Linked DNA regions of Homo sapiens: regions 2, 3, 4, 5 and 6 are each reported to be linked to region 1. The links are microRNA targets in miRTarBase. Many come from high-throughput screens and were not tested one by one. Region 1 holds a microRNA gene; each other region holds the end of a gene's coding sequence.
The links. The annotated mature microRNA hsa-miR-4468 reads AGAGCAGAAGGAUGAGAU and lies in region 1 at 1,734-1,751, shown strand. An mRNA with a match to its seed (bases 2 to 7 or 8) in the 3' UTR can be bound and repressed. Matches are read on the target gene's strand: a 7mer-m8 pairs with bases 2 to 8, a 7mer-A1 pairs with bases 2 to 7 and ends in A, and an 8mer does both.

Region 1 (5,072 bases):
GTGCTGGGGGGTGCTGGGGAGGAGAGGAAGGGACAGGGGTGTAGGGGGAAGCCCTTCTATCCGTCTTTTTTTAACAGTTACTTCTCTTCCTTTTTCTGTCTGGTTTCTCATAACTCCAACCAGCAGAGACAAGCCCAGGATGAAGACTGGGCAGTAGCCTGGGAAGAACCGGGCTTCGGTAACCACAGGGGCCCCAGGCGGCCCGGGAAGCGTGGAGGTCCCAGCGTGCGGGCAGAAAGCCCAAGAGGCCGAGCGCTGTGGCAGCTCCATGGGGCCCTGGCGGAGGCAAGGGCACAGCGTGGCTGGCTGCATATGTGAACAAGGTGAGCGGCGGGGCCGCGGTCGTCGCGGAGTCTGAGCACACCAAGGAGCGCATCAGACTTCAAGGGTCGAAGTGCAAAGGGGCAGTTTTTGATTTCGGGGTCAACCAACTAGGACTCGATGGGTGGAAAAGAAGTGCCTAAACAGCAAGCTGCTTACCTCAATCTCGGTCAGAATTTGTGGGGGCCCCATAGATGTGGGTGCCTGGCGGGGTCCTGGTGCGGACAGCGGTCTCGGGTTTGCGCACTGCGCACAGTATCCTCATCACGACACGATGGAAGCTGCGGAGCTGGGGTCAAAATAAGAAGGCGCAGCTGGGACCTGGTGACACCAAGAGAATGGAAGCCCCCAGACTCATTGCGGGTCTCTGCCGGGAAGTGAGTATGTAGGCAGCCTGTGGGCGGAACCTCACCTTGGCCTTGACGGAAACGGGCTCTGCGTTTGCCTTTGGGGAGAACAAGATGGGGCAGCTGAGCCTCAGCAACCACGCAGGAGCATCCCCAGCACCGCACAGATCATGGACAACGGGCAGCCAATTACTAGAATGGCCAGTGGAAATGAATTCCGTATAATGGGCGACAAAGGAGACCTCTGTTCCTTCGTGTGCCCTCAATGTGGTCAGCTGGGACCCAGGCACAGTGAATAGTTAAGGCTGTGAGCTGGTGCTGGTGCCACGATGAGTGGCCCACCTTCACTGAGAATGAAAGATGGGTAGATTCTGCCTGTACCAAAGGTGGTTGTGAGACCCCCAGAGCAAGGCAGGGACCCCTCCCCATTTCCCTTACATGCTGTGCTGACTGAAGCTACATTCAACCTTGCAGCCACACAACCACAAACGTTTCCTTTCACAAAATAGACCAATCAAATCTGAGACAGAGTATTCTGAGCACAAGCATCTTGGCTAACAGTGGGCACTTTGCAAAAGATGCTCCCCAATGCACTTGCCCAGTAATGTCCTAGCCTGTCCTAACCTGGCCTTTGCTTCATTTCAGTAGTAAAAAGCACACCCCTGGGTGGAGATTTAAGATGCTAATGAGACATGCATCACATGAAGAAGCATGTCCAGAGACTGCATAGGTGCAACTGCCAAACCACCCCAAACATGCAATGATGTCACATGGAGGAGCTCCAAAGCAAATGAAACCCCAAACTAACCTGCAGTCAGGGAGCTAGCTGCAGGTCTCTTCCTGCTGCTACCTCCCCTTCTGCTCAAGCTGAGAGCTCCAATAAACTGCCTTGCTCAAGCCCATCTCAGATTCTTGGTCTATTTCTATTTACTAAGGGTCAAGAACCCACCAGCCAATAACGGTTGTGTAAGACGTGACCTGTAATGCTAACCACACATTGATTCTGGACTCCAAGAAATGAGTCTTCTCCTGGGGCTTTGGTGGCTATGGTTGACTGGGCCACTCAGAGCAGAAGGATGAGATGGTCCCCGCTTGGTGAGGTTGGAGTCTGACTTCCTTGGGTGTGGGGCATCCCAGATCCATGTTGGTTACACCTGGTCCTTTGCTGTCTGTGAAGTTGGTAGTCTCTTTTTCTGGGGGAGCCCAATATCTCCCATGAATCTTCCATGTACCTGAAAGCAGTGCAGGACCTCTGCGGCTGCAGAATCCAGAGCCTGGCTTGTGGGAAGAGCAGCAACATTGTGGCCGCCAATGAGAACACCATCAGCTGAGGGCCATAACCAACCTTTAGGTAATTGGGATACAGGGACCATGAGCCCAAGTCTTCCACTGCAGCCCAAGAGGTGAAGACTCTGAATGGCATCTTTTCAAAGCAGGTCTCCATAGGCTACTCACACTCCTTGGTGATAGTGCGAGATGAAAGTGAGACCAGGAAAGAGAAGATCAAGAAACTGCTAGAGCCGGTTGCGGTGGCTCACTTGTAATCCCAACACTTTGGGAGGCCGAGGCAGGCGGATCATCTGAGGTCAGGGGTTCGAGACCAGCCTGGCTAACATGGTGAAACCCCGTTTCTACTAAAAATACAAACAAATAGCTGGGCATGGTGGCACATGCCTGTAATCCCAGCTAATCGGGAGGCTGAGGCAGGAGAATCGCTTGAACCCAGGAGGTGGAGGTTGCAGTGAGCCGAGATCACGCCATTGCACTCCAGTTTGGGCAACAAGAGTGAAACTCCAACTCAAAAAAAAGAAAAAAGAAAAGAAAGAAACTGCTAGAATACAACCCCTGAACCCTTTGATGCTCCTGGGGACTCCTGCAACTCCACCCGTCTCCCAGAAGCTGTCATTTCCTGTGCAGTGGGAGGTGAAGTCAAACAAGGAATTTTAAAAAGCAAAAGTTAGCCAAAGTTGCATTTTTGTTAGACTCCCTGAGGTTCCATTTTTACAAGGGATCCAATGTTAATTATCCTTTTCTGCATACTTTTAAAAGTCTGTTTTTTTCTCTTCATGTTTAATTAAAATATTTGCTCATATTTGGAAAAAATATGAATTGTTATAAAATAGTGGAAAAGATATCCAGACTCCCAGTGAGGACTGTGTTTCCCATTATGCTTCACCCAAATTAACTCAGTCAATTCTAACTTTCAGGAGTATTCACTTGTTATGCCCCACTTCCACATAGCGATTTTTCCATCAGGATGTTATTAGTTCCTAGTAATAGAAATGCAATTCAGACTAGTTTAAGCAGAAATAGTGAATTCACTTTGTCACAGAACTGGAAACAAAGAAGTGCAGGGGTAAAGTGGCTGTAAGCAGCTAGAACTAGGGCTCAAGCAGTGTGTTTACAACTTGTGACTGTTTTCACCCCGTTGGACTAGCTGTCTCCAGACAGCAGGCATGAAAGCAGGCAAGATAGCTCTCAGCAACACTCTCCTTCACTCAGATTAGGAACCCAGAAGAGAGTGAGAGTCTTTGGTAATAGCTCTGTCAAGGAAGTAATCCTGGGAAGAACTCTGACTGGCCAACATGCATCATGCTGGAACCAATGGTGATGGCCTGGGGCAGACTGAATGGAAGGGCCTGAGACATAAACTCATCCCTGTGCAGAGAAGAAGCAAGAGAGGAATGAGAGAGACAGTGGGAGGGGGATGGAAAGGCAAGAGGGTAGGAGCGAGTGGAACAAGAGCAGCACTAAGGAGAAAGGAATCATAAGGAACTACAATCCTGCCTCAATCACCAGAAATACGTTGCCCCAAGAAGCAGGCAAAATAAGAGATGTCTGCAACAGGGACTTTCAGGGCGTGGAGATAAATAAAATTTAAAAGCTATTGGAACCCCCCCCAGAACACATTAAGCCCTGAGTGAGATGTGACTATGATCTGAGTCACACATGGTTACAACTTCTGTTCTCAGATAGATTAACTCACTTTCTTATTTTTCTTGTTCTGCACAATGACTAGAGTGAATTCAACTACACCACAGATAAATGCCTCCTGCCTTCTTCATTAATGGCCCTGGTCATAGATTCACTTCCCCTTTGCTGCCTCACTTTGCTTAGACCAGATGACAAAAAACGCATGACTATTACACCCTCTGTGAAAAGTGTTAAATGTCCCCTTCCCAAAAGGAAACACTGCCTATAACCAATCAAATTGCTGTAACTATGCACCAACCTTGTGTAAATAGTGTTGTAATCCCACTAAAATCTCTGTCTCTGTCTAAATAAATGAAATCTTAACTTCCCTACTTCAAAATGCTGACTCCATTCCTTTGGAGTTGGTGTTTCTGGGTGGTCCGTCCTCACTGTTTGAGCTTGAATAAACTCTCTTTAAATTAGATTCTGAACCTTTTGATTATTTTAGGTTGACAGGAGTTTTGGAGTACTAGGTTTTAGCTTCCTGCTTCCCTCACTTCAGATTCCCAAAAAAATGATATAGTAGAAATCTCCATCAGCACTGAAAATTAAGAAGGTTGCTGCCTATCAGAGGGTGTAAATGAGAAGAAACTGTCAAAGTATAATTTTTTACAAATCAGGCCGGGCATGGTGGCTCACACCTGTAATCCCAGCACTTTGGGAGGCCAAGGCAGGCAGATCACCTGAGGTTGGGAGTTCGAGACCAGCCTGACCAACATGGAGAAACCCCGTTTCTACTAAAAATACAAAATTATCCAGGCGTGGAGGCGCATGCCTGTAATCCCAGCTACTCGGGAAGGCTGAGGCAGAAGAATTACTTGAACCTTGGAGGCAGAGGTTGTGGTGAGCTGAGATTGCGCCATTGCACTCTAACCTGGGCAACAAGCGCGAAGCTCCATCTCAAAAAAAAAAAAAATCAAAAATATGATTTTTATGTAAATACAAAATGAGTACATACCAGTGATTTAATTATCTCATTAATGATGGAAACAGAAAAACGGTAAGAGAAATACCAAGAGAATTGGAGAAAGTAAAATGTTTCAGCAGCTGAAAGAAAGGATGCTTGGATCAAATTGCTCATTTAGCTCCAAACCAGTTTAGCCTTCTGAAAGGCAATACAACTATATAACTTTTGAGTTTATCTTTTCTACCAGATTTAATAATTTATATCTCTACAATAAAAGATCCATTTGCATTGTTATTGGACAAGAATCATTTTCATCACTACCAGGTTTCTATTAGTTAATAACTACTCTTACAAAATTGTAAATTACCCTATTAAACAGTTCACTCAGCTGACCTGGGAAATCCAAACCCTGCACCTTCCAAAGAAAGGTCTGGCCATTAACCACTTATTGGGAGATAACCTCTAAGCCCTTGGAATGTCATTCCTGAGAAGAATGTCTTTGCTTATCTGGGGCTTTGGGCCAC
Region 2 (5,072 bases), not on the chromosome of region 1:
AAGGGTTGGGGTGCATGTATAGGATATGTCAGAACAAAAGCCCTCTGACCGACTCATAGACCCTGGACCATGATGAGGCCACTTCCCACCTTGTCCCGTGGATCTAGCCACCGAGTGTCTTTTTTTTTTTTTTTTTGATGGAGTCTTGCTCTGTCACCCAGGCTGGAGGGCAATGGCGCGATCTCAGCTCACTGCAAGCTCCGCCTCCCGGGTTCACACCATTCTCCTGCCTCAGCCTCCCGAGTAGCTGGGACTACAGGCGCCCGCCACCAGGCCCGGCTAATTTTTTTGTATTTTTTTAGTAGAGACGGGGTTTCACTGTGTTAGCCAGGATGGTCTTGATCTCCTGACCTCGAGATCCGCCTGCCTTGGCCTCCCAAAGTGCTGGGATTACAGGCGTGAGCCACCACGCCCAGCCACCACCAAGTGTCTTTGGGGCCTTGGGGGCCATAATATCCCTGAGAACCACAGTTGTCCAAATCCTCCTTGGAACGTAGGTTTTCATCCTTGGGCCTGGGGCTATGGTAGAAAGACCTATTGTTAAAAAGACACTAAACGAGGCAGATGTCAGGGCATGTGAGATCCCTGCTTCTGCCAGCACGCTTTGCTGTATGCAGCCCTATTTTGGTGGTCTTTGCTGATACCCTAACAGCGTGCCTTTTGGGACTCCCCAATACTGTGGCACTGCACCTTTTTTCCTGTGAAATACACCCAGTGTTTCTCTCTTGCAGCTGAGAGCAATGATGGCTACCACATCATCCTGAAATGTGGACTCTGAGCAGCAGTGGACCTCATACCTGTCTCCAGCTCCCAGCCCTGTGGATCCCCGTGGATGTAGACATTGCCCCACTGTAAGCTGTGGCCTCACCAGGCAAGCTGAGGCCAGGAGGGACCCTGCCCAGTCTGTGAAAGCTACAGAGCACCAACCAGCAGAAGCCTGTGGACACCAAGTACGGTGTACAGAAAGCCAGTGGCTCCTTTCTCCCTTCCTCTTGGCCTCCAGATTTTGAATGGTTCCTTGTTCTTTTCTATTGGTCCAACCCTGACGTTCTAAAAGGGCAAACAGTGGAGACGTCTGCTCTGAAATCCCTCATCCCTTAGTTGGAAGCTGATTGGGTATCTTGGTGCTGCCTGTATTGGTCCCTTCTGACCACTCTCCTGCCTCCAGAGAAAGCTCTGCTTCACCCTGGAAGCTGGTACCTTTACCTCCTCCTCTGGGAGTTGGCTGCATGGCCAGCACTGCCGACTTGATGGGAGCAGTTTGCCCTCATTCTCCTGTTTCAGGTTTGCTTCCCTTCTCAGTGACCCTGGTGAGCATCCGCCTTTCCTGTTCTTGGATGAATTGATGGGAGTGGGGCTATTCTGTGCCTTCTACCTCTTTCTTCTCTACGTTGTTTCTAAGGATCTGCTGCTGCGGAACCCAAAGATGTGCTCCTGTCTCTGCACTGGCGCATTGGCATGGTAGATGCCACAATGTATGTGCACGGCCTTTCTCAGAGACATTAGTTCTGAGGCCCTTTGTGGGGAGGTTAGGGGGATGGTAATAGAAAAAGACTATTTTATTTCCTGGCAATCACGGGTAAGGAGGATTAGGAATGAGTATTCCATTCCTAGGTGTCATCAGATGACCTTGACCACCACAATACCAGGCCCTCTTGGATGGACTTATAGAAAGTTAGAGAAGACCTTGTTGAACCGCTGCTAAACTTGCCACAGGAGCGATGTGTTTTCTCTGAGTGCCCCTCACTTACATGTTTATCTTTGTTTGTAGAGGCTATGTTTAGGATATTTTGCCTGCATCAGAATGGGTGCATCATCTTTCTTAATGGCCTAACTATCGGGAAATTTGAGTGTCAGTAACTGTGGTAGACTCAGAAATTCGTCTTTGTCTTGCCTCTGGTTCCTGGGATCCAGTGATCTCTACTGGCCCAGGGCTTCAGCTCTTGGTTAATTTAGGTTCATGGGGAACCCTCTGACCACCTGAATGGGATGTCATAGCTTCTAAATGGAGCTTCTGTGGAATGAAGTGCTAGACTGAAGGACTACCAGAATAAAACAGGGTCTACAATGGGGAGAACTTGTTTTATAGATGAGGAAACCAAGGCTCAGAGGGGCAAAGTCACCTGCATGGTAGCACATAGTGATAGGGTAGCGATATAAATTTATCATATAAACCAGGACATCTCGGAATAAAAGGGGCTCTGTTAGTCATTATGTTGGGTAATAGCCGTGGCATTCCTACAGAACAGAGTGAGGACAGGCTCCTGATTCCTCTTCCTTCTTTAGAGGAGAAGCGGGGAGTGGGTTAACTAACAGCTTTATTGAGATGTCATTCACATGCCATTCAGTTTACCCATTGCTAGTGTCCAATTGTATTCACAGAACCACCATCAATTCACAGAATTACAGTCAACGTTGGTACATTTTCATCACCCCCAGTAAAACCCCGTACCCTTGGTCTGTCACTCCTGCTTTCCTAACTCCTGCAGTCCAAGGCAGCCATGAATCTACTTTCTATGTAAGATTAACCTACTCTGGACATTTCATATATCTGGAATCATGTGATATCTCTTTTGTGACTGGCTTCTTCCACTGAATGTTTTCTAGGGCCGTCCAAGTTGAGGATGTATCAGTACTTCATTCTTTTGTATTGCTGAATAATACTTCATTGTATAGATAGACCACATTTGTTTATTGATTCATCAGTTGATGGACATTTGTGTGTTTTTACTTTTTGGCTACTCTGAATGATGCTGCTATGAACATATTTCTACAAGATTTTGTGTGGACATATGTTTTCATTTCTTTTAGCAATATACATAGGAGTGGAATTGCTAGGTCTTACAGTAACTCCGTGTTTTAACTTTTTGAGAAACTGCCAGACTGTTTTCTATAGCAGCTGTACCATTTTACATTCCCACCAGCAATGTATCCAGGTTTCAATTTGTCTACATCCTCATCAACACTTGCTATTATCTGTCTTTTTGCTTTTAGCATCCTAATGAGTATGAAATGCTATCTTGTGGTTTTGATTTGCATTCCCCTGATGGCAACTGATGCTGAGTGTCTTTTCCTGTGCTTACGGGCCATGCGTATTTCTTTGGAGAAAGGTCTATCCAGGTCCTTTGCCTATTTTTAATTGAGTTGTCTTTTTTTTTTTAAGTTTTCTGTTTTCCTAACCACTAGACTACCAGGGATGAGCCTTCTTTTTATTATTGAGTTGGGTGAGCTATTTGTATATTCTAGACGCCAGTCTTTTATCAGGTATATGACTGGTAAAAATGTTCTCCCCTTCTGTGGATTGTTTTCAGTTTCTTGTTGGTGTCCTTTGAGACACAAAACTTTTTAACTTTGATGATTTCCAAGATACGTATTTTTTTTCTATTGTCACTTGTGCTTTTGGTGCCATATCTAGAAAACCATTGCCTAATCCAAGGTCAAGAAGATTAATGCCTGTGTTTTCTTCTAAGAACTATACTTTTAGTTCTCACAATGGTCTTTGATCCATTTCGAGTATATTTTTATATATGATGTGATGTAGGGGTCCAGCTTCATTCTTTTGCTTGTGGATCTCCACTTGTCCCACTGCTGATTATTGAGAAAAATATCCTTTCTCCACGGAATTGTCTTGGCATCCTTGCTAAAGGCCTCTGCTTCTTACTGGATCTTCTTTCCTGGGACATGGTGTCGTTGGGAAGCTTACCTTTTTTTTTTTTTTACTTAGTCTGTGTTTGGTTCCACCAGTTTTATGCTGCCTTTCTACTCTGTTCTTGCTGTCTCCCTCTTTACCTGAGTCAACGGTACTGAGTCCTATCTCTCTCTGATGTTCCCCAGTCTTCCTTGGTGCATGTTCTAGCTCCACACACTAGTCCTTGGAGGAAGGTTGAGACCAATGATTTCCTGTTATGAGTCATGAGGAAACTGAATCACCTAGAAGTGGAATAATGTGCTCAGGGTCACCATAGCCCATTAGTGGAAGGACCAGGACTAGACCTTTAGTCTTCTGAGGTCCAGCCCCTTAGGCTGTCTGTCATCACTGTACCCAAGTGATGTCACTACCAAGGCCAAATGATGGTGGGCTAAATTTTAATTCTCAAAAGTGTAGGAGGCTAATATTGTCTTCTAAGTTCCAAAAGAAGATGTAATAAAAGTCTGTTACCTTAAGTGTGCTATTAGTAGAGTCTTCCATTTTTCTGGCATGCCCCTGGCATCTGCTCTTCTTACCTTCTCGTGGTTGTAGTTAAAGCTTATAGCTTATGAAAGAATAGAAAATAATAAATACCAAAAAAAAGTACACATGGTAATTTGGTACCAAAATATCTCAGCTGCCTAATTTAGCAGCTCATCCCTTCCACAGGGGTCAGATGAGCTAAAGCTCCAGGTTTTATTTTTCATTTGATTGACATACAGAAAAGCCATAGCCCTTCCCACAGCTGTCCAGGGTCTTTCCTGTGAGTCCGGAGGTGCTGGCCTATTGAGCAGGACAGCTCTTCCCAGGGCATTCCCACCAACCTGTGGCTTCTGAACTGTAGCTTCTTTTTACAGTGAACCCCAGAGGGAAATAAGACAGACACATGTGCTCAGGCCACCATCTTGAACTGGAAGCCCAAAGCTGAGTTCCTTACTCTTAGGTCGTCACGGTTTTTGCGGGGTATCTGCAAGGTTGAGATAAACCCTTTCCTGTTTACCAGGTTGTCCTTTCTGGATGAAGGGACAGAGGCTGTTGAATGGAGGAATAATAGGTTTGCTGGAGGAGGGGCATGGTATGCCTGTGGAAAGGACAGGATGGGGTGGGGAGGTCGAGGCTTTGACTTGGGGTCCTAAACAAAGGTCAGGTGTTGCCCTAGTGACCTCTTGCCCAGACAGCCCAGAGCCCCTTACACAGAGCTATTAACCTAGGGAAGGCTTTACCAGCAGTGGACTGGAGCCAGCCAGGGTCACAAGTTTCCAAGTCCAGCATTGCTTCAGGGGCTGGCCTGAGTAACTGAAGATCTGAAAATCATTAACAAGTCGATGAAATAAACGGAAAAGCCTCTTAGGCTGTTGTCAGTGGAGCAGAGGGAGAAAGTCCC
Region 3 (5,059 bases), not on the chromosome of region 1:
CTGCTGGGCCTGCTCTCTACTATACTGAGCAGCCTGATTATCAAATAATGTGTTTTTACCACAATTAAAACAGGGTACTTTTATCATTTAAGCTTCCTGACAATTGTCAGTCTGGGGAAGCAGTGGGAAGCCTAAAGATCTTTGCATAGGGAGAGAAGGTAGGATGGGAAGTAGCTAGACATGTAAAAGTGGTACTAAAATCCACCTGGAGGCAGTGAAGTGCAGAATTAACATTGCTGAAAATTTAATCACTGATGGGAAAAGGACAGATGCAAGAGCTCTCCCAAAATACAACAGAAAAGAAGGGAGAGATGAAAACAATGGGGGTGAGAATACCAAATGAAAAGCAAAGAAAAATCCAACATTTATAGCTATTCCCAAGGAAGAGAAAAGCTAAATTCAAACAGATTATTTAAAGATACAGTCGTTGAAAACGTATGTTCTAAAACAAAACAAAACAAACCCTGTGAATTGCAGCCTGAAAGGAAAGCATGTACCACGTTCTGGATAAATATGAAAGCAAAGAGGCCCCATGGAAACATATCCATGCATAGCCCATGCATTTGTGTCTTCTCTCACCAAATAGCAGGAGCCCCAAAATATGTATGTGTGGGCCATAAACATGTTAGAACTCCAGTGCATTAAGAAAACTGCCTTTACAAAAGGTGGCAGTTGCAAAACTTTAAGCCATGAATTTTTCTTTTTTTAATCTAAAAGCAGATTTCATGTCATATTAGCAAAGGATGCTTAATTCCAAAGCATTAGCTCAGATAGGCAATTTTGGGTGGAAATGTCCCGGAGGTATTTTTGGTGACCTGACTGACCATTGCCCATCTACTTTTTTCTTTCTCTGATCCTTTTTTTCCTAACTTGCCCTGTGTTTTCTCCATTTTTAGGGTAAGCTTTGGGCCAGAAAGCACCTTTTTTTTTTTTAGACGGACTTTTGCTCTGTCACCAGGCTGGAGTGCAGTGGTCTCGGCTCACTGCAACCTCCGGCTCACTGCAACCTCCGACTCACTGCAACCTCTGACTCCCAAGCTATCTCCTGCCTCAGCCTCCTGAGTAGCTGGAATTACAAGGCATGTGCCACCAAGCCCAGCTAATTTTTGTATTTTTTTTTTTTTTTTTTTTTTAGTAGAGACGGGGTTTCACCATGTTGGCCAGGATGGTCCCGATCTCCTGACCTCGTGATCCACTTGCCTTGGCCTCCCAAAATGCTGGGATTACAGGCATGAGCCACCGTGCCCAGCCAGAAAACACTTTTTCAGACTGACTAGCACTGCTGGTGACACTCAGGGCCAAGCGACCTTCCTTGTGCATCCTACTGCAGCAGGGTAGGGCAGGAGGCCAGAAGCAGGGTCCTTGCAAGTGACCTGATAGGTCTGTGAGCATCTGGCAATACGGTGGCAGCCAGAAAATCTTACATGACTGTGGGCGGGAGATTCCAGAATTGTGGGAGAGAAGAATCTAGATGGGCAGGAGTATTTGGCCACAGTCCCAGTGAGTCAGGGTCTGCAGACCAGAGCCCCTAGGCTTGAGAACCAGGACAGTAACATGAAAGCAGCATTCCTAGACCCAGAAACCTTGCGCAGGCAGGTCAAGGAGCTGGGCTTGCAGAGGCAACAGGAGGAGGAGACCAGGGTCAGAGTTTGGACATCTTCACCTCAGACCGTAACTCAGGGTAAATGTAGGCAGGACAGAGACCACAGCACTGCTCGGATGACCATTCAGGCCTCCTGAATTCCATTCGGTTGAATTCAGTTTCTGAAATCTGTAAACCATTCTCCTTCCCTAAGAATTTCAAGTGTCATTCGTGCCATCATATCATCCAACACTGGACAGTGTATTCCTCTATCAATCAGCAACCAACAGGATAAACTAGTCCGGAACCCACATCTGCTCCCCTGTGTAATATTGGGTGAATTCAGTTGGGTGACTTCCTGTTTTCTAAATCTTCCTTTAATAGGATGTTGCTTTGTGTAGTTATATCTGGATATGGCCACAATTATTTCCTACAAGATAACTGTAGGCACAGGGGGGTATTGGATTTTTTTTTCCCCCAGCACGTAGTCTTGCTTTGTAGCCAGACTGGAGTACAGTGGTGTGATCTCGGCTCACTGCAACTTTCGCCTCCCAGGTTCAAGCAATTCTCCTGCTTCAGCCTCCAGAGTAGCTGAGATTACAGGTGCATGCCACCGTCCCCGGCTAATTTTTGTATTTTGAGTAGAGACGGGGTTTCACCATGTTGGCCAGGCTGGTCTTGAACTCCTGAACTCATGATCCACCCACTTTGGCCTCCCAAATTGATGGGATTGCAGGCATGAGCAACTGCACCTGGCCAGTACTGGAATCTTACATCTTCCTAATTATTAGTGGTGACAAGTGGGTACTTTCCATTCATTCCAGTGAGAAGCACTAGAACCTTAAAATTTCAGAATTGGATGAAAATAACAAAGATCACCCAGTTGAATCATATTTTTTTTTGTTCAGAAGCAAAAACTGAGGCTCAGAGACAAACTGTCCTGTCCAAGATTATACAGAAAATGGTAGGAAGAGTTGAGAAGTTTCTCAATAATGCCATGACTGTTGAATCATAGGAACAAAAGCCAAGAGATGGATCCTTACAATAGTTTAACAATATAAACCACATGGAACATTTCAAGAAAGAGTTAAACAATGATCTATGTTTAAAAGCTATCTCTACCTGGCATAGTATCTCACATCTATAATCCTAGCACTTTGGGGGTTTGAGGCAGGAGGATCGCTTGAGGCTGAAGTGAGCTGTGATCGCACTACTGCATGCCAGCCAGGGTGTCAGAACAAGACTCTGTCTCTAAAAATAATAATCACCATCATCTTTCTCATTAGAACACACATGCCAACCATCCCCTTCTCTGGCTACATTTTATAGTCAATGAGTGCTGTACGCAACCAACAAGCTTGTAACAACACTGCTGTATCATTCTGCTTTTATTAGAAGGCAATGTAAAAGAGTATTGACCTACACAGTTAGGCCAGAGGTACTAGCCAATCTCCATCCTCCAAGAAAAATGATCTCCAGTGGCTCAGAGCCACCTCAGTCCCTGTCCAGAGGCCGTTCGCCTGACTGGGACTGGACTGAGGTGGGCGGGGGTTCCAGGAGGGCATAAGATTCCTGACGGGACAAATATGTGTGCCAGGGCTAAACAGAACTGGCTGGAATGTTTTTCTTACCTCCCATTTCTACTTCATTATGAAAATGGTGGACTGGGCAGCAGTGAATGGGTCGATCTTGTGTGTCAGGTTATGTAATTACATAAACGACTGTATTAGCTTTCTGGGGCTATAGTAACAAGTCAGCATGAACTCAGCATGAACTAAGCAGCTTAAAACAACAGACATTTATTCTTCCAGTTCTGGAGTCTGGAATTCTGAAGTCAGGGCCATGCTTCCTTCTAAGGCTTGTGGGGAACCTGTCCCATGCCTCTCTGCTGGCTTCTGCTGGTGGCCGGAGATCCTTGGTGTCCCTTCCCTTCCGGCTGCATCACTCCAACTTGCCTCTTGTCCCCTGGTCTTCTTCCCACTGCATTTGTGTCTATTACCAAAACTCTCTCTTCTCCTAAGGATGCCAGTCATTGGATTTGGGGCCCACCCTAATCCAATGTGACCTCATCTTGACTATATCTGCAAAGACCCTATTTCCAAACAAGGTCCCATTCACGGGGATGGGGGTTAAGACTTCACCATATATTTTGGGGGAACACAATTCAACCACAAGTAGCATCCAAACAGCCTGCTTATTCTGTTCTTGTCTAAGCACTTCTGATAAAAAATAAAAAAATACATGTACAGATGCTTTATCCTTTTGGTGCACTATAGAGTATATCCAGGGGAGGCCAGGCCAGCCCCGGCCCCATTCTCCCGAACAAGAAAACAAACTCAGCGATGTTTGCTCACTTTCCTGCAGGTCCATCTGTATTTTCATGCATGTTAAGCCTCTCATTCAATTTACATTCATGACTTCTGTTTTTCTATGTCTCTCATGTCCTGGTTCCAACATGTACAATAAGTGAGGTGTGTTTTAAGCATCATCTCAGCCAGGAAAGGCTTTTGCTACCATTCCAAAGCCAACATGAAACTTCGAAACTTCATGTCAACAGGCCCCTGAAACCTCCTGAGATGATACAGAGGGAGTGCAGGGGTCATATGATAGATATTCGTTTTCAAGTACACCTTAATTTCTAAAAGTTTTCCATTTCTTCATTTGTTTTATTTTATGTACATCATTAAGGTCATACCCTTCATGACAGGTACTTGCTGAAATTGAGACTCTTCTCCCTTTTGAGCAGAGGTCATTTTCTCTTGACATTGAATTCCAGTATTTGTGCAGAAAAGAGGTGTCAATGAGGACTCCATGGATACTTTACTTTCAGTTGATCAGTATTGGCTCTGCTGCAGGGTGATTTTGGCTTCACACATAAATGTTGCAGTGGCATTTGTCCAGGGGAAAGCCCGCTTGGAGGCTGTAGGATGACCCTGATGGAGGCTGTCACTCAAACAGCTCCAGGTAGTCAGGCAGCTGGTCCTGCTGACCACAGGGATAGAGAAGGAGCTCCTTCCCCAGGGAAGTGATGGGTTCCTCCTGTCAATCAGAAGGCACGGGGTCAGATAGTGTAAGTAGTGACCACATGCTCTTCCTACTTCCTCAGAGGACATCACTAGCTGCCTACCCATGATTTACACAAAGCTTTTGTGGTTTATGATCATCTTAAAAGGCATTTTTCTTATCTACATGTGACCAGGTACTCCTTTCCCTTCAGGGCTTGAATTCTAACTTAAGGCCTATGAATTCTCATAGGTCAGGGGTCCCCAACCCCAGGGCCATGGACCAGTACCAGTCTGTGGCCTGTTAGAACTGGGCTGTATAGCAGGAGGTGAGCAGTGGAGTGAAGCTTCATCTGTATTTACATCTGCTCCCTGTCATTCACATTATCGCCTGAGCTCTGCCTCCTGTCAGATCAGTAGCAGCATTAGATTTTCATAGGAACACAAACCTTATTGTGAACTGTGCATGGGAGGG
Region 4 (5,072 bases), not on the chromosome of region 1:
GGGTGGGAAGCTGCGCTGGCAGGTTAGCAGTGAGAACCCTGTCTGACTCTCTCATGTCCATTTCTCTCACCAAGGCCTGTGTGGACTGTGGGAGCAGCACCCAAGATCCTGGTCACCCTGATGACCCACTCTTCTCAGAGCTGGATGGACTGGGGCTGGAGCCCATGGAAGAGGGTGGAGGCGAGCAGGGCAGCAGCGGTGGCGGCAGTGGTGAGGGAGAGGGCTGCGAGGAGGCCCAAGGCGGGGCCAAGGCTTCAAGCTCTCAGGACTTGGCTATGGAGGAGGAGGAAGAAGGCAGGAGCTCATCCAGTCCAGCCTTACCTACAGCAGGAAACTGCACCAGCTAGACTCCATTCTGGGACCATCTCCAGGAGTCCATGAGAGGCTTTCTTCTCCTATGTCCCAATTCTCAGAACTCAGATGTGGCTAGACCAACCAGTGGGAAACTGCCCCAGCTTCTCCCACCATAGGGGGCCGGACCCCCATCACCAGCCTAGGATCCAGGGGCTGCCTCTGGCCTCTTAGGGAGCAGAGAGCAGAACTCCGCAGCCCAGCCCAGAGGAGTGTCACCTCCCACCTTTGGAGAGGAATCCTTCCCTCCCCTGGACAAAGTTGCTGACAAGCTGCTGAAGTGGCCTCTCCATATTCCAGCTGAGCCTGAATCTGACTCTTGAGGGTTGGGGCTGCACTTATTTATTGCGGGGAGACAGCTCTCTCTCCCACCTCCTCCCCAGATGGGAGGAGAGCCTGAGGCCCAAGCAGGACCCGGGGGTTCCAGCCCCTAGCTGCTCTGGAGTGGGGGAGGTTGGTGGACCATGGAGTCCCTGGTGCTGCCCCTCAGGTGGGACCCAGGCGTTCTCAGCTGTACCCTCTGCCGATGGCATTTGTGTTTTTGATATTTGTGTCTGTTACTACTTTTTTAATACAAAAAGATAAAAACGCCCAGGACTTTGTGGAATGAAGTTTGGGGTTGGGGTGAGGGGAGCATGTCAAGGGGAGATGTGGCCCTGCTTTTGGGAAGGTTGTAGTGAGGGTGTACAGGGCCATCTCCTGACGACCCCCATTCCTCTTTTCCCCCATCCTGTCCAGGTGAGGGCCCTGCTGAGCCCGCTACGTCCACGTCCAGCTCAGACTCTGCTGTCCCCTCTAGCATGGCCTCAGCTGGGTTTGCCCTGGGAAGGAGAGCTGAGAGGTGCGTGTGGCCAAGGGCTTGGGTAAGCTCCAGCCCGGGTCACGGGTGGCCAAGGCAGAGGAACCCTGCTTAACTCCGTGGTGCCCTGAGGTATTCGAGGGTGTTTGTCTTCCTTGGCTTCCTTTTTTTTATTTGAGACGGAATTTCGCTCTGTCACCCAGCTGGAGTGCAATGGTGCAATCTCGGCTCGCTGCAACGTCTGCCTCCCGGGTTCAAGCGATTCTCCTGCCTCAGCCTCCCGAGTAGCTGGGATTATAGGTGCCCACCACCGCGCCCGGCTAATTTTGTATTTTTAGTAGCGATGGGGTTTCACCATTTTTGGTCAGGCTGGTCGCGGACTCCTGACCTTAGGTGATCTGCCCGCCTTGGCCTCCCAAAGTGCTGGGATTACAGGCGTGAGCCACCGCGCCCGGCCTTCCTTGGCTTCTTGGTCACCACACAGAGAGGGCCCTTCAGCAGGTCAGTCTAGGTAGCTAAGGGACACATGGAGTCATGTGCTCACTCATGGTTGAGTTGGCCCCAAAGGTGTGGAAGAATGGAGAAGCAAAGCATTAACCCTTTGGCTCAGAACCTGAAAGGGAAGAGGCACCTTAGGAAGGGATGAGTCACTGAGGAACCACTGCAGGCAGTTTGCTGATTTTCACTTACTGTCACCCACTAAGAGTTGATTTATCTTGAGGAACACCTGTTTTACGCCGGCGCCGTGGCTTAGCTGGTTAAAGCGCCTGTCTAGTAAACAGGAGATCCTGGGTTCGAATCCCAGCGGTGCCTGAGTTAGCGGGGAGTGATATATTATTGCTGCAAGTACACTTCTCCACTTTCAAAGGGCCTTTCTAAGAAACATTTCTTCTAGACTCTCCCTAAGATTCTTCTTACATGCCAATCCGTCTTTGGACCTCCGTTTCCCTGCACTTTTAGTGTGTATTGGAAACTACAGATTCTCACTTCGGTTTCATGAAGTAGCCTGAAGTAGGCATCTCAGGGTCTGTCCTCAAGAGTATGGAAGACAGGGCTCGGATTTGGACCCGTTTTGTTTCCATCCTATGCTCAGGGAGGAGAGGGAGAATAGGAAGGCTGCCGCTCCAATGGGGCTGCTGACGTCTGCTGGAGGGAAGGCATGGTCTGCGCCACCGAGCAGAGGCGCACGAGCGCAGACGTCTCTAGGCGGCGCGGGTGGAGCCGGGCGGAGCCGGGCGGAGCCGGCTGGAGGCGGGCGTGTTGATAGGCAGCTATAGTTGCACAGGGCCGACAGCGCACGCGGCTGTGATGGCCGAGTGGTTAAGGCGTTGGACTCGAAATCCAATGGGGTCTCCCCGCGCAGGTTCGAATCCTGCTCACAGCGTCACTAGTTTTGGTATTTAGGTATCTCGGTCTCTGGAGAAGGAAAAAGCAGTTTGTTTTCTGGTTCTTTCCTTGGAGAATCTCCCGCGTTATTCTGAGAATCTCAGAGACTCGGCCGTCAGGGACCAGCCCGCGAGCGCCCTCTTGCGATTCTCATAGTCCTATCGACCTGCAAAAACTTTTTTACTGCGGATTTCAATTCCTAACGCCACCACACTCGGGTGGCTCCTTAGTGCTACTCAGCAATCGTTACTTTCCTCCAATTCATTCACTCTCATACTGCCCCATGAGACTGTTTCATTCCTACCCTCACCTCAAACTACGAATCCCTTCTCAGCTTTTACTTCCTGATTCACTGAGAAAATAAACCATTCCGGAGTTCCCCATCAACATTCACATCGCACCTACCTACCTACCTACCTAATTGAGTCGGTGACCACGTACTCTTCTTTTCCTTCATTATTGTAGAAGAATGCTTCCACCTAAAGCCAACCCCTACTTTTACTAGATTTCCCATCCCTCTGGCCATCTCAAAGACACTGCTTTTTCCTATACCATCAAAATTTCCCTCTCAGCCGGGCGTAGTGGCTCACGCCTGTAATCTCAACACTTTGGGAGGCTTGACGGGTGGATCACTTGAGGTCAGGAGTCCGAGACCAGTGAAACCCCAATCTCTACTAAAAATACAAAATTAGCCGGGCGTGGTGGCTGACGCACGCCTGTAATCCCAGCTACTCGGGAGGCTGAGGCAGCAGAAGCTCTTGAATCCGGGAGACGAAGGTCGCGCCATTGCACTCCAGCCTGGGCAACAATAGCAAAACTCCATCTCAAAAAAAAAAAAATCCCTCTCTACTTGATTTTTCTCTTCAGCCTACAGACACTAATTTCCCCCAATTTAGAAGCAAGACAACAAAAGCTATCTTGACCCCACACGCCTGTCCAGCTACCACTCAATTTCTCTACTCCCTTCTACAGCAAACAGAGCAAGTTATCCAATTCCATCTTCCCACTCTCCTTTGGACCCTTGCTAATCAGGTGTCCACCGCCCCCATCAAAGCTGCCCTTGTTAAGGTTGCCGAATGATCATCACATTGCTAAATCTATTGACCATTACTTCGTGGAAGCTGATACCGATGCTCACTCTTCCATTAGAAACACTCTTCGCTTGCCTTCTAGGACACTACGTCCTTCTGATATTCCTTCTACTTCATCAGCAGCTTATTCTCAGACTTCTTTGCTGTTCCTCACCTTCTGGATCTCTAAATGTTGGACTGTTCCCAAGGCTCAATTTTCCAACCTCTTCTCTATCTGTACCCACTACCTTGGTCATTTCCAGTTTCATGGCTTTAAATATCAGGTAATACATTAATACATCCCAGATTTTCATCTCCAGCTCCAGAACTCCCCCCTGAGTTACAGATGCTTATGTATTATTGCCCACATATCATCTACACTTGGAAAAAGCTAATACAGATCACAAACTTAAAATGTGCAAACCAAGGCCGGGCGCGGTGTCTCGTGCCTGTAATCCCAGCACTTTGGGAGGCCGAGGCGGGCGGCTCACCTGAGGTCGGGAGTTCGAGACTAGCCCAACCAACATGGAGAAACCCCGTCTCTACTAAAAACAGAAACTTAGCCGGGCGTGGTGGCACATGCCTGTAGTCCCAGCTACTCGGGAGGCTGAGGAAGGAGAATCACTTGAACCCGGGAGGCGGAGGTTGCGGTGAGCCGAGATCATGCCATTGCACTCCAGCCTGGGGAAAAAGAGTGAAACTCCGTCTCAAAAAAAAAAAAAAAAAAGTGCAAACCAAACGCCTAGGCTTCTTCCCCAAACCTCCTTCACCTGTGATCCTTTCATCTCAATAAATGGAAATTCCATTCCTTCAGTTATTTAGACTAAAAACCTTAGCGTCGTCCTTGATTGTTCTCTTTCTCTCCCACTCTACATCAAATGAGCCATTTCTATTTACAATATGTTAGGGTCAGGTGTGGTGGCTCACACGTGTAATCCCAGCGCTTTGGGTGGCCAAGGCAGGAGGATCTCTTGCGTCCAGGAGTTCAGGACCAGCCTGAGCAACATAACAAGACCCCAGTCTCTGTGAAGATTAAAAAAAAAAAAAAATTAGCTGAGCATGCTTGTTATCCCAGCTATTTGGGAGGCTGAAGAGGGAGTATCACTTGAGCCCGGGAGGTTGAGGCTGCAGTGAGCAGTGATTACACCACTGAACTCTAGCCTGGGTGATGGAATGAGACCCTGTCTCAAACAAAAAAAGAAAAAAGTCTAACATTTGACTATTTGCCATTACACCATGGTCCAAGCCACCCTCATCTCTCACCTAGATTATTGCAATACCCCCTAAGTTATTTCCTGGCTAGTTCCAGAGTCTACTTTTTTTTTTTTTTTTTTTGAACAGGGTCTTGCTCTGCCTCCAAGACTGGAGTGCAGTGGCGTGATCTGGGCTCACTGCAGCCTCCTGAGTTCAAGTGATTCTCATACCTCAGCCTCCCAAGTAGCTGGGACTACAGGTGTGCACCACCA
Region 5 (5,072 bases), not on the chromosome of region 1:
GTGTAGTATATATGGTTGTGTATGTGGTTATGATGCAGCTGTATCACTGTGTCCAAGTGGGTCTGGTTATGTGCCTGCAACTTTCCTATTCTTTCTTTTTTTGAGACGGAGTCTTGCTGGAGTGCAGTGACATGATCCCAGCTCACTGCAACCTCTGCCTCCCAGGTTCAAGCAATTCCTGTGCCTCAGCCTCCAGAGTAGCTGGGATTACAGGCATGAGCTAACTTTTGTATTTTTGTATTTTTAATAGAGACAGGGTTTCGCCATGTTGGCCAGGCTGGTCTCAAACTTCTGAGCTAAAGTGATCTGCCCACCTCGGCCTCCCAAAGTGCTGGGATTACAGGCATGAGCCACTTCGCCCAGTCCTATTTGTCTTTCATGCCTTTCTCTGTGTATGTGTGAGTGTGTACTTGCCGCAAAAGGCAGGAATATAACAAGTAGTGCCCTGAAGCCTATGTCCAAAGGAGAGGGCAAGAGCTAGCTGCAGGTACCTGGTTCTCTGTCACTGTCTTAGGTGCAATATAGTTTGAGAGCAGCTCAGCAGCTCTCACAGCCCAGGCCAGGATAAAGCCCTCTCCACCCCAGCCTTACTTCCGGGTTTGGGCCTTGGTCCCTCCTGTTGCTCTCTGTCTTCCCAGAGGCCTGACAAAGTCTGGCTCCCTGACTGCACTGCTCAAACCTTTCCCAGGGGTCTCAGGAAAGCAATCAGAATTCCTCTGACCCTCAGGCTCTGAGGCAAGGTGGACTCTTCCCATGGGCCAACCTAGGGAGAAGTGTAGAAGTTGCTTTGCCTGTGGGCAGGGCTGCTGCCTGTGCTGAACGCCACGAAATGTGATGTTTTGACTCCAGTTAATTCTCTATGAGAAAAGCATCTCTTTTCTTTCCCAGGTGCCTGAAATTCCACCATTGGAAAGCCACCCCGATCTTGCTTTATTATAAACTATCTTCAGAGAGAACGCATTTAGTGGGCTTTCCTCTGAGGTCCTGATGAGGAAAAGGATGAGAGGAAGAAAATATTTGGCATAGAAATGAGGAATTGGGGACAGAATGACCAGGTTGGGTGGGTGGTGACTAGAGGCATCCTTGGCGGTCGCAGTCTTCCTCCTGCCTCAAGGCCTCTGCCAGGGTTGGCTGCAGCAGTCCTCATGCAGGGGGCAGAGAGCTATATGGCCCATGGGCCCCTCCCATGCAAGCAGGCGGGCATGGGGCATTGGGATCCCTGCCCACACTCCAATCCTGGGGGGCTCTTGCTTCCTGGGAGGCCTGTTGTTATGCTGGATATCCCTGACTGTGGGATGGTACACTTGCATTCACCTCACACCTCACCCGCTGAGGCTTCTCTAGGTCCCAAGCATCTCCTCTGGAGCTCTCAGACAGGCCACAGGGTCCATTAAGTTCCTATCTGCACATGGTCACTCTCAGTTGAGACCTTCTGGTCCTGACTCAGGGAACTCCAGCCCTCAGCCTCACCCCAGCCAATCCATAGGCCACTCTCCTGGCCCATATTCCTTTGGGTGTGAGGCACAAAAGGAGACACAGCACCAAGGTCTAGGGAGGGCCAAGGAGGTGTGTTAAGGCTCTGTTCCTGCTTCCCCACAGCCCCAGCCCCATTGTACTGGGCACAGGGCCTGGCTGGGCAGAGATGTCATTGGTACATTTCCCATGGATAGTCTTCCACCTTCCAGCCCATTTCTCCTCCTTCTATGCCCCCTACTCAACTCTTCTCCTTGTGCTCCTGGTCCTTGTAGAATAGGATGGGATATCTCAGCTTCTCCTAACCAGGCAGAGCTCTATCAAGCCCTAGGCAGACATCAGCATTTGCGGGCAGCTGACCTCAGAGAAATGCAGGCCCTGGACCAGGGTCACATAGCTAGTTGGAGACAGACTGTCACCCCAGCTCAGGCCCTTGCCTACTCTCCTGGCAGAGCAGAACAGGCAGCCAGCCTCAGGAGAAATGTGAGGCTGCCAGAGATGTAAGATAAAAGTAGCAGAGAGAAGTTCCACTGGCTGGTCGCTGGGTCGGGGGGTCCATGCAGCCTGGGCCCACCTCCTCCAAGACACTCTATCCAGCTCCCACAGTCATTCTTCCTCCTGTCCCAGCTCCAGCTGGAGCCCTGCCATCAGCCAGCTGCAGCTATGGCAGCCACCCCCTCACCCTCTTGTAGCACTGATAAGCACGCTGGGAAGGGGGATTGTCTTCATTTCATAGATTGGAGGGCTGAGGCCAGGAAATGATTTGAGGACTGAAAGTAAATTAGCCGAGACTGGAAGTCAGGTTTCTAACATTTAATCTCCACTTAGGGAATTGGAGGTCAGAAATGAATAAAATACCATGCCCCAGTAGGCTCCAGTCTAGGGAAGTGGGCAGCAGGCAGAAACCAAGACACAGAAAGCAACGACACATAACAGATATGCTATGATACAAATGGTGCTGCAGGAGCTGCACAGTTCGGAGGCCATTTCTGGCCAGAGGATGGGATGCGTGAAATCCAGGAAGGCTTCCAGGAAGGAGTAGCTGGCACTGGGATGGGCAGGAACAGCAATGTCTCTACTGATGGTTTCATTGGAGAAAGCTGGCAAAGTTGAGAAGTTTGGAGACTAACCGTGACAAAATTTAAACATCAGGTATGTGAAGGCAAGGGGGACCAACTGTGACAAAATGTAAACGTCAAGTGTGTGAAGTCAAAGGGGAACCAGGAAAGTAAAAGAGTGACAATCAGCAGTGCTTTTGGCAAAAAGGCCTCTGGCAGCAGTGTAGAAGAGAAACGCAGAGATCACAGGTATAAGAATGACAGTAGGAGAGGGGAGGAGGGTACATATTTCAGAGGCATCACAGGGGGGTGTACTGATAGGACGGGGGCCTGCTTGTATGAAGGTGAAAGAGGAGGAGGGAGAGTGTCTCTGGGAGATGGGGTGAATGGTAGTGTTCTGAGCAGAGAGAGCAGGGAAATCAGGAGGAGGAGTGGTTCAGGGAAGAGGCAGGGGTTCAGATGCCAAGTTCTGCATTGGCCAAGCTGAGTCAGAGGTGCTGGGAGACTCCCATGTGGGTCTGGGGATAGAAGAAAGCTCTGAGTTCAGCAATGATCATGGAAACCAAGGGAGGGTTGACAGCACCCTGAGGTGGGGGAGACATGGGCACTGAGGAGGGATCTTGAATGATTCCTACATTAAAGACATCCTGACTGGGCACAGTGGCTCATGCCTGTAATCCCAGAACTTTGGGAGGCCGAGGAGGCCGGCCAAAATGGTGAAACGCCGTCTCTACTAAAAATACAGAAACTAGCCGGGTGTGGTGGTGCGCACCTATAATCCCAGCTACTCAGAAGCCTGAGGCAGGAGAATTACTTGAACCCGGGAGGCAGAGGTTGTAGTGAGCCAAGATCACACCACTGCACTGCAGCCTGGGCAACAGAGTGAGACTCTGTCTCAAAAAAAAAAAAAGGTATCATTTCTCTAGACCTGTGCTATCCAATAGGGCAGCCACCTGCCACACACGGCAATTAAGCACTTGGAATGTGGCTAGTCTGAACTGGGAAGAACTGCAAAAGTACAGTACATACCAGACTTTGAAGACAGGATGAAAAAGGGAAGGTAAAAACTATTACGTTAAAATTTTTAATAGTGATCACGTTGAAATGCCAATATTTTGGATATATTGGATTAAGTAAAGTATATTATAAAAATGAATTGTTTCATTTTACTTTTTAAAAATGTGTTTACCAGGAAACTAAATTAGCTGGGCAAGGTGGTAGGTGCCTGTAATCCCAGCTACTGGGGAGGCTGAGGCAGGAGAATTGCTTAAACCCAGGAGGCAGAGGTTGCAGTGAGCAGAGATCGCACCGCTGCACTGCAGCCTCGGCGACAGAGCAAGACTCTGTCTCAAAACAAACAAACAAAACCAAAAAACCCCACTACTCATGTAGCTTGCTTCATATTTATGTTGGATGACACTGTTCTAGAACCTGAATTCCATAGGATGTGGGATAAGTGTTGCTGAAAAAACTAAAGCAAGCTGGGAGAGTGGAGGCTGATGTTTGCAAGATGCCATGTTACTCGTGTCTGGGGGGAACCAGTCTCTGTACTCAGGACTTCTCAAGGCAGGCATCATCTCCCAAACCAAGTTGCCCACAGATACTCCCCCTTCCTCTGGACTTCCTGTGAGAGGAGGGTTCGGCAGAACCCACTCTGAGAGATGGTATTTTAAAGAGAATGATAAGCCTGTCAGATGACTAGGCGGGGAGAGAGCGAGGACAGGCAGAACAGAGGTAGGGGGTGCCACAGGACCAGAGGGAGGGGTGGCCAGTGGGGTCTTGGGGCTGCAGAGGGGTGAGAACAGGTGAGAGATGCAATAGAACTCCTCTGGCCAGGTTTGCAGCTGGCTTGGCCAAGCTCACTCTGTAGGATGCAGGCGGTAGCGGAAGCGCACATCGTGGCTGGGCTGCATGGTGCCAAAACCCCAGCGCTGCGGGTCAACATGGGGTAGTGGTGTGTCAGGGTCCACCAACTCTAAGTCAAAGTGTGTGACCATAAGCAGGATAAAGAGCTTCACCTCACTGAGTGCAAAGAACCTCCCAGGGCAGATGGAAACGCCCGAACCCCAGGGCATGGTGTAGTGGTGGATCTTCTTGCCTGTCTTGAAGAAGTCCACTTTCCGGCTGCCATTAGGGTTGAGGAAGCGATCGTACTTGAAGACGGTGGGCTCAGGGTGGATGTCAGGGTCCATGTGCACTGAGAGGTAGGGAAAGAGGGCCAGGATGTCTCCATGGCGGAACAGATACTCCTGCCCACTGGACATCTTCAGGGTATAGTCTTCATGAACCAACCTGAGGAGGGTGGGTGCAGCCCTCAGCCGCAGCGTCTCCTCCACCACGCTGTCTAGAACTGGGGTGTGTTGCAGGGCACCGAGTTTGAAGGCAAAGGACTGCTTGGTCTCCAGCCTGGCCTCACCCAGGACCTGGGTAGCTTCCTCCCTCACAGCCCGAATAGCTTCTGGGTGCTTCAGGAGGTACAAGAGGGCCCAGAAAGAGGTAGGCCCCGTGTTCCCCTGGGAGGCCCAGAGCATCATGAAGTTG
Region 6 (5,072 bases), not on the chromosome of region 1:
CACATGATCCAGGCCTACCCAATCAGAGCATTCTATTCTCCAGGTCATAGTGATTTTTTTTTTTTGAGACAGAGTCTCACTCTGTCCCCCAAGCTGGAGTGCAGTGGTGCAGTCTTGGCACACTGCAACCCCTGTCTCCCATGTTCAAGTGATTATTCAGCCTCAGCCTCCTGAGTAGCTGGGATTACAGGTGCACACCACCATGCTTGGCTACTTTTTTGTATTTTTAGTAGAGATGGGGTTTCACCATGTTGGCCAGGCTGGTCTCGAACTTCTGGCCTTAAGTGATCTGCCTGCCTCGGCCTCCCAAAGTGCTGGGATTACAGGCGTGAGCCACCCCACCTGGCCGTAGTGATTGTTTTTTGTATTTTGTTTTGAGACAGAGTCTGGCTCTGTCACCCAGGCTGGAGTGCAGTGGTGTGTTCATAGCTCACTGCAGCCTCGAACTCCTGGGCTCAAGCATTCCTCCTATGTCAGCCTACCAAGTAGCTGGGATTATAGGCACAAACCACTGTGCTCAGCTAATTTTTTAATTTTTTGTAGAGATGGGTCTCACTGTGTTGCCCAGGCTGGGATGATTGTTGTAGGGAGGGGCACAAGTCCATGAGTTCCAATTTTCAGGCCTGTCTCTTGGACTGTTGAAACACAATTATACTTCAACTGGACTTGGAGCTGCTGGAGCCTCAGGCTGGGGCCTTCAATTGAAGCCAATATTGAAGCCATTTTCAGAGCAGACCTGAAAAATGGGAGATCTAGCCTTGTTAATATTATGTGAATCCCTGAGTCAAGATGTGCCGGAATTGAGAAAGAGCTGAACTCTTAAGACTTTTCAGTTATGTGAAATAACAAATCCCCTATTCGTAAAAGCCAGTTAGAAATGGGGCTTTAAGTCCTAATTTATTGTTAAACATTTTTTATGAAGCTATACCACATCTCTAAACTTTTACCAGCACATTTCTGATTTCTGTTCCCCTGTACTGTGATCCATATTTTATTGAAGTTTTGGGGCTTCTTTTGTAGAAATGATAGAAATGTATTTAATAAACATTCTGGAGTATGCATGCCTTTAATGAATTAAACCTCATAGGCACTTGATATGAAGGGATTTAATGTTTGTGAAAATGAAGTGAGACAAATAAATTACACATTGAGATACAGCCCAAGTTGCTAAATGTTTAAAGGTTGAGGCTTGTAATTTTATTTTCTTCCATTTCATAATAGTGTAGTGACACATCACAATACATCTCTACACTGTGACTTGATTTCTCCCGAATCTGTGTCTGATGCTGGGAACACTGATGTTCTGGCTGAATCCATGACACTTGCACACTTGTGCTCAGTTTGCCTCATGACTGGGGTCACTCCAGCCAAGGCTGCAAACTAGGACAGAGTTTGAAACTGGTGCTCCCCTGCGAGACCTTTACTTCACATATTACAGAACCAGGACCACTAGGCCAGCTGGTCTATAAAGAGCGCCTAAAATGGCAACCTATTAATCTCAGATTTTTTTTTAGATGGAGTCTCACTGTGTTGCCCAGGCTAGAGTGCAGTGGTGCGATCTCAGCTCACTGCAGCCTCAGCCTCCTGAGTAGCTGGAATTGTAGATGTGTGCCATCACGCCCAGCTAATTTTTGCATTTTTAGTAGAGATGGGGTTTCACTATAATCTCACCATCTGAAATTATGGCCAGACTGGTCTTGAACTCCTGACTTCAGGTGATCCACCTGCCTCAGCCTCCCAAAATGTTGGGATTACCAGCGTGAGCTACCGTGCCTGACCATAATCTCAGATATTTTCTAAACCAGTATTTTGCCACCAGTAAATGCTGATTATTAAAAATACACTCAAAGGCCTTTTTGTCCTATGACTGATGCTGCTGAAAATTTGATGTAACCATCTTGGCAATTTGTGGTAATCTCATTTCTACAAATGTGTGGAGGAGATGCACGAGACCCGAGTAAATAATATTGTTTTCAGTTGCTTTTTTCTGTTATCACTATAGACATAACCGTGGAATCATCGAATGACAGGCACAGTAACCAGGAAGACATAGATTGATTGGGTGGGGTCACCTTCATAGTCACCTTGGCTAACTTTCCAATTATGTACACATTGTATCTTGGGAGGACAACAAGGATGAAAGAAACCCAAGTTTTAGCATAGAATACTTGAGCAGCTGGAAGTGGTTCCTTCACATAAGTAATATTAATTGAGCACCCACTGTGAGCCAGGCCCTGCACCAGGGTCTCTGCTCTCGTGGAGCTCAGTCTGCTGGGGAGATAGGTTACCAGACAGACATGCCCTATGTTCTTAATGCCACTGGAGCACTCACCACGTCAGGTGTGACACGAGAGGTGGGGCAGTCTCTAAGTGGAAGTGGGGCTCATATGAATGAGTAGGGCAAGTCTGGGAGACAGAAAAGGGGAAAGGTCATTTTGGGCAGTGGAAAGAAATAAATCAAGTGCAAAGACACAGAGGTGCAGGAGGCCCTGGCCAGCAAAGGCACAGAGGTCAGGCGAAGCCCAATGGAGAAGCATGCATGCCACGCTAAAGCATTTGAACCCTGTTCTGTAGGCCCTGCTGGGGTCAGCGGAGGGGGTGGAGGGGTGGGAGTGGCAGGCAGGAGATCCTTTCAGGCAGGAGACTGACATCAGATTTAGTGTTGGAGTCTGGAGTCTGAGGGAGGAATCTATAATAACTGGTAGGTTCTATGGATGCTGAACCAGAATGCAGAGGCGGGAAGCAGGGGAGATTGGCTAGGAGTCTTCTGCAACAGTCCAGGCTCATGATGACAGGACTTGCACCTGTGAGAGAGCACAGGCCACAGAGGGCACGGGGTGCTGTCGAAAAACTCTTCTGAGGTACAACAAGTAGACGGCAGTGCCTGATACTACTTGGATTGGGAGAAAGAGGCATCAAGGACTGAGGTAGCAAGCTTGGAACTGAACCAGTAATGCTACCACAGACTTTCATGCAGTTTAAATTCTCATAGGGTAACTTTTCTTCCTCACTCTAATAGCACATCATTAAGACAACCAACAAACCAACAAACACTTTTTTTTTTTTTTTTTTTTTGATTCGGAGTCTCGCTGTCGCCCAGGCTGGAGTGCAGTGGCGCGATCTCGGCTCACTGCAAGCTCCGCCTCCCGGGTTCACGCCATTCGCCATTCTCCCGCCTCAGCCTCCAGCTTGGCTGGGACTACAGGAGCCCGCCACCATGCCCGGCTAATTTTTTTGTATTTTTTTTAGTAGAGACGGGGTTTCACCGTGTTAGCCAGGCTGGTCTCGATCTCCTGACCTCGTGATCCGCCCTCCTCTGCCTCCCAAAGTGCTGGGATTACAGGCGTGAGCCACCACGCCCAGCCGACAACTAACAAACACTTTTAAAAATACTTATCTAAAAAGCACAAGAGAGGCTGGGTGCGGTGGCTCATGCCTATAATCCCACCACTTTGGGAGGCTGAGGTGGGCGGATCACCTGAGGTCAGGAGTTCGAGACCAGCCTGGCCAGCATGGTCAAACCCCCTCTCTACTAAAAATACAAAAATTAGCTGGGCGTGGTGGTGGGCGCCTGTAATCCCAGCTACTCAGGAGGCTGAGGTAGAAGAATCGCTTGAACCCGGGAGATGGAGGTTGCAGTGAGCAGAGATCATGCCACTGCACTGCAGCCTAGGCAAAAGAGCACGATTCCGTCTCAAGAAAAAAAAAAAAGGAGAGAGAAATAATCACTAATATTAAGATAACACAATATTATTCCTGTCCACACCAAGAATATACCTTGTATATTATTGTTACTTCGATAATATACCTTGTATATTATTGTTACTTCGATAATATACCTTTGCCTACTACCTACCTAAATCCTTTTGTTATTTTAGTTATTTTAGAGAGACAGGGTCTCACTCTGTCTCTCACGCTGGGGTGCAGTGGCCTGATCATAGTTCACTGCAGCCTTGAACTCTCCAACTCAAGCGATCCTTCCGCCTCACCCTCCTGAGTAGCTGGGACTACAGGCCAGCGCCACCACACCAGCTCGTTTTATTTTTATTTCACAGAGATGCGGTCTCGCTAGGCTGCCCAGGCTAGTCTCAAATTCTTCGGGCTCACGCGATCCTCCCACCTCGGTCTCTTAAAGCGCTGGGATTACAGGTGTGAGTCACCGCCCGCAGCCGCACCTGCCTAAATCCCTTAATGTATAAGGGAAAGGAGCGAGAATTCAGGGGAAAAAAAACAAACAAAATAGCCCCCAGCACTTCTGAGAAAGATCTGCCATACAGAAAAGCCGTCCTGAGCGGGTCTGTGTGGAGGGAGGGGACTGCATCTCAGATCCACAGTCCACCGGCGGCTGCAACAATTCCACCCAGGGCTGCAGCACGCTGGTTCTTCAGTGTCGGGCCAGGTTGGACCTCCGGCTGGAGGCCTTCCACACCGGAAACACTGGTAGGGCTCCTCTCCAGTGTGGGTTCGAGGGCGGTGGAGGAGCTCGGCACTGTCGCTGAAGCCTGGCCCTGGCCTCGCCGAGCGGTCCGGCCGCTCTGTGCTGCGAGGCCTTCCGGGCTGGCTCAGGGTAGCCTGGGGCCTGAACCGCCTCCCGCGAGTCCCGTCCCGCGCTCGCACAGCTTCTGGGCCCCATCGCCCCCTCCTGCTGAGCTGCCGGCTGGGTGGCTGGCGGAACCTGGGCAACTTCCAGGCCTCCCAGAGGCACTGCAGGCACTGCGGGAAGGCCGGATGGAACCAGAGGCTGGAGACTGAGTGGGGGGCCAGGATAAAGGAAGGGAGGTCGGGGCAGGAGTGTGGATGGGGGCAGATGTTGAAGGAAGGACCCGGGGCTCCCACAGGGCCGGAGCCCAGAGGTGCTGTCCGGGGCGACTGAGCTGGGTGCGAGGCTGACGCTCTCCACGCTCCCACCCCTGCAGGTCTTCTCCCCTGGGTGCGGAAGGACGCGCTGGGAGAGGGAGGTCTTCTCATTGACACTGTCACCGCAGCTGCAGCAGCAGAAGGGACACACTCTCCTGTGTGAATTCGCTGGTGGCCGATCAGCTTCCACCGGTCCCCAAAAACCTGCTGGTACT

Region 2: the mRNA of TFCP2L1 is a reported target of hsa-miR-4468. Seed matches in the 3' UTR shown: 7mer-m8 at 1,075-1,081 and 7mer-m8 at 4,211-4,217.
Region 3: the mRNA of SH2D4A is a reported target of hsa-miR-4468. Seed matches in the 3' UTR shown: 8mer at 4,322-4,329.
Region 4: miRTarBase lists PER1 as a target of hsa-miR-4468. The part of its 3' UTR that is shown has no 7-base or 8-base seed match.
Region 5: the mRNA of CYP8B1 is a reported target of hsa-miR-4468. Seed matches in the 3' UTR shown: 8mer at 3,825-3,832 and 8mer at 2,930-2,937.
Region 6: miRTarBase lists ZNF843 as a target of hsa-miR-4468. The part of its 3' UTR that is shown has no 7-base or 8-base seed match.

Annotation. Positions count from the first base shown.
Region 1 is chr7:138,122,070-138,127,141 of GRCh38, forward strand. MIR4468 (microRNA 4468) reads left to right here and starts at 1,689; the gene lies at 1,689-1,752. It also overlaps the pseudogene RCC2P3.
Region 2 is chr2:121,220,047-121,225,118 of GRCh38, reverse strand. It overlaps TFCP2L1 (transcription factor CP2 like 1), which reads left to right. Exons shown (of 15, transcript NM_014553.3): 15 at 732-5,072. The coding sequence ends at 778. Among named protein-coding and RNA genes, the nearest start is that of TFCP2L1, 63 kb to the left of the region's middle.
Region 3 is chr8:19,394,112-19,399,170 of GRCh38, reverse strand. SH2D4A (SH2 domain containing 4A) reads right to left here. Exons shown (of 10, transcript NM_022071.4): 10 at 2,953-4,621. The coding sequence ends at 4,529. Among named protein-coding and RNA genes, the nearest start is that of SH2D4A, 83 kb to the right of the region's middle.
Region 4 is chr17:8,136,343-8,141,414 of GRCh38, reverse strand. It overlaps PER1 (period circadian regulator 1), which reads left to right. Exons shown (of 23, transcript NM_002616.3): 23 at 75-943. The coding sequence ends at 347. TRS-CGA1-1 (tRNA-Ser (anticodon CGA) 1-1) reads left to right here and starts at 2,453; the gene lies at 2,453-2,534. TRT-AGT5-1 (tRNA-Thr (anticodon AGT) 5-1) reads left to right here and starts at 1,890; the gene lies at 1,890-1,963. RefSeq lists an enhancer at 848-1,526 and silencers at 1,924-1,973, 2,334-2,503, 2,524-2,583.
Region 5 is chr3:42,869,921-42,874,992 of GRCh38, forward strand. It overlaps CYP8B1 (cytochrome P450 family 8 subfamily B member 1), which reads right to left. Exons shown (of 1, transcript NM_004391.3): 1 at 2,272-5,072. The coding sequence ends at 4,391. Among named protein-coding and RNA genes, the nearest start is that of CYP8B1, 3.4 kb to the right of the region's middle.
Region 6 is chr16:31,431,419-31,436,490 of GRCh38, forward strand. It overlaps ZNF843 (zinc finger protein 843), which reads right to left. Exons shown (of 2, transcript NM_001136509.3): 2 at 4,016-5,072. The coding sequence ends at 4,385. Among named protein-coding and RNA genes, the nearest start is that of COX6A2, 5.6 kb to the left of the region's middle. RefSeq lists an enhancer at 4,063-4,563.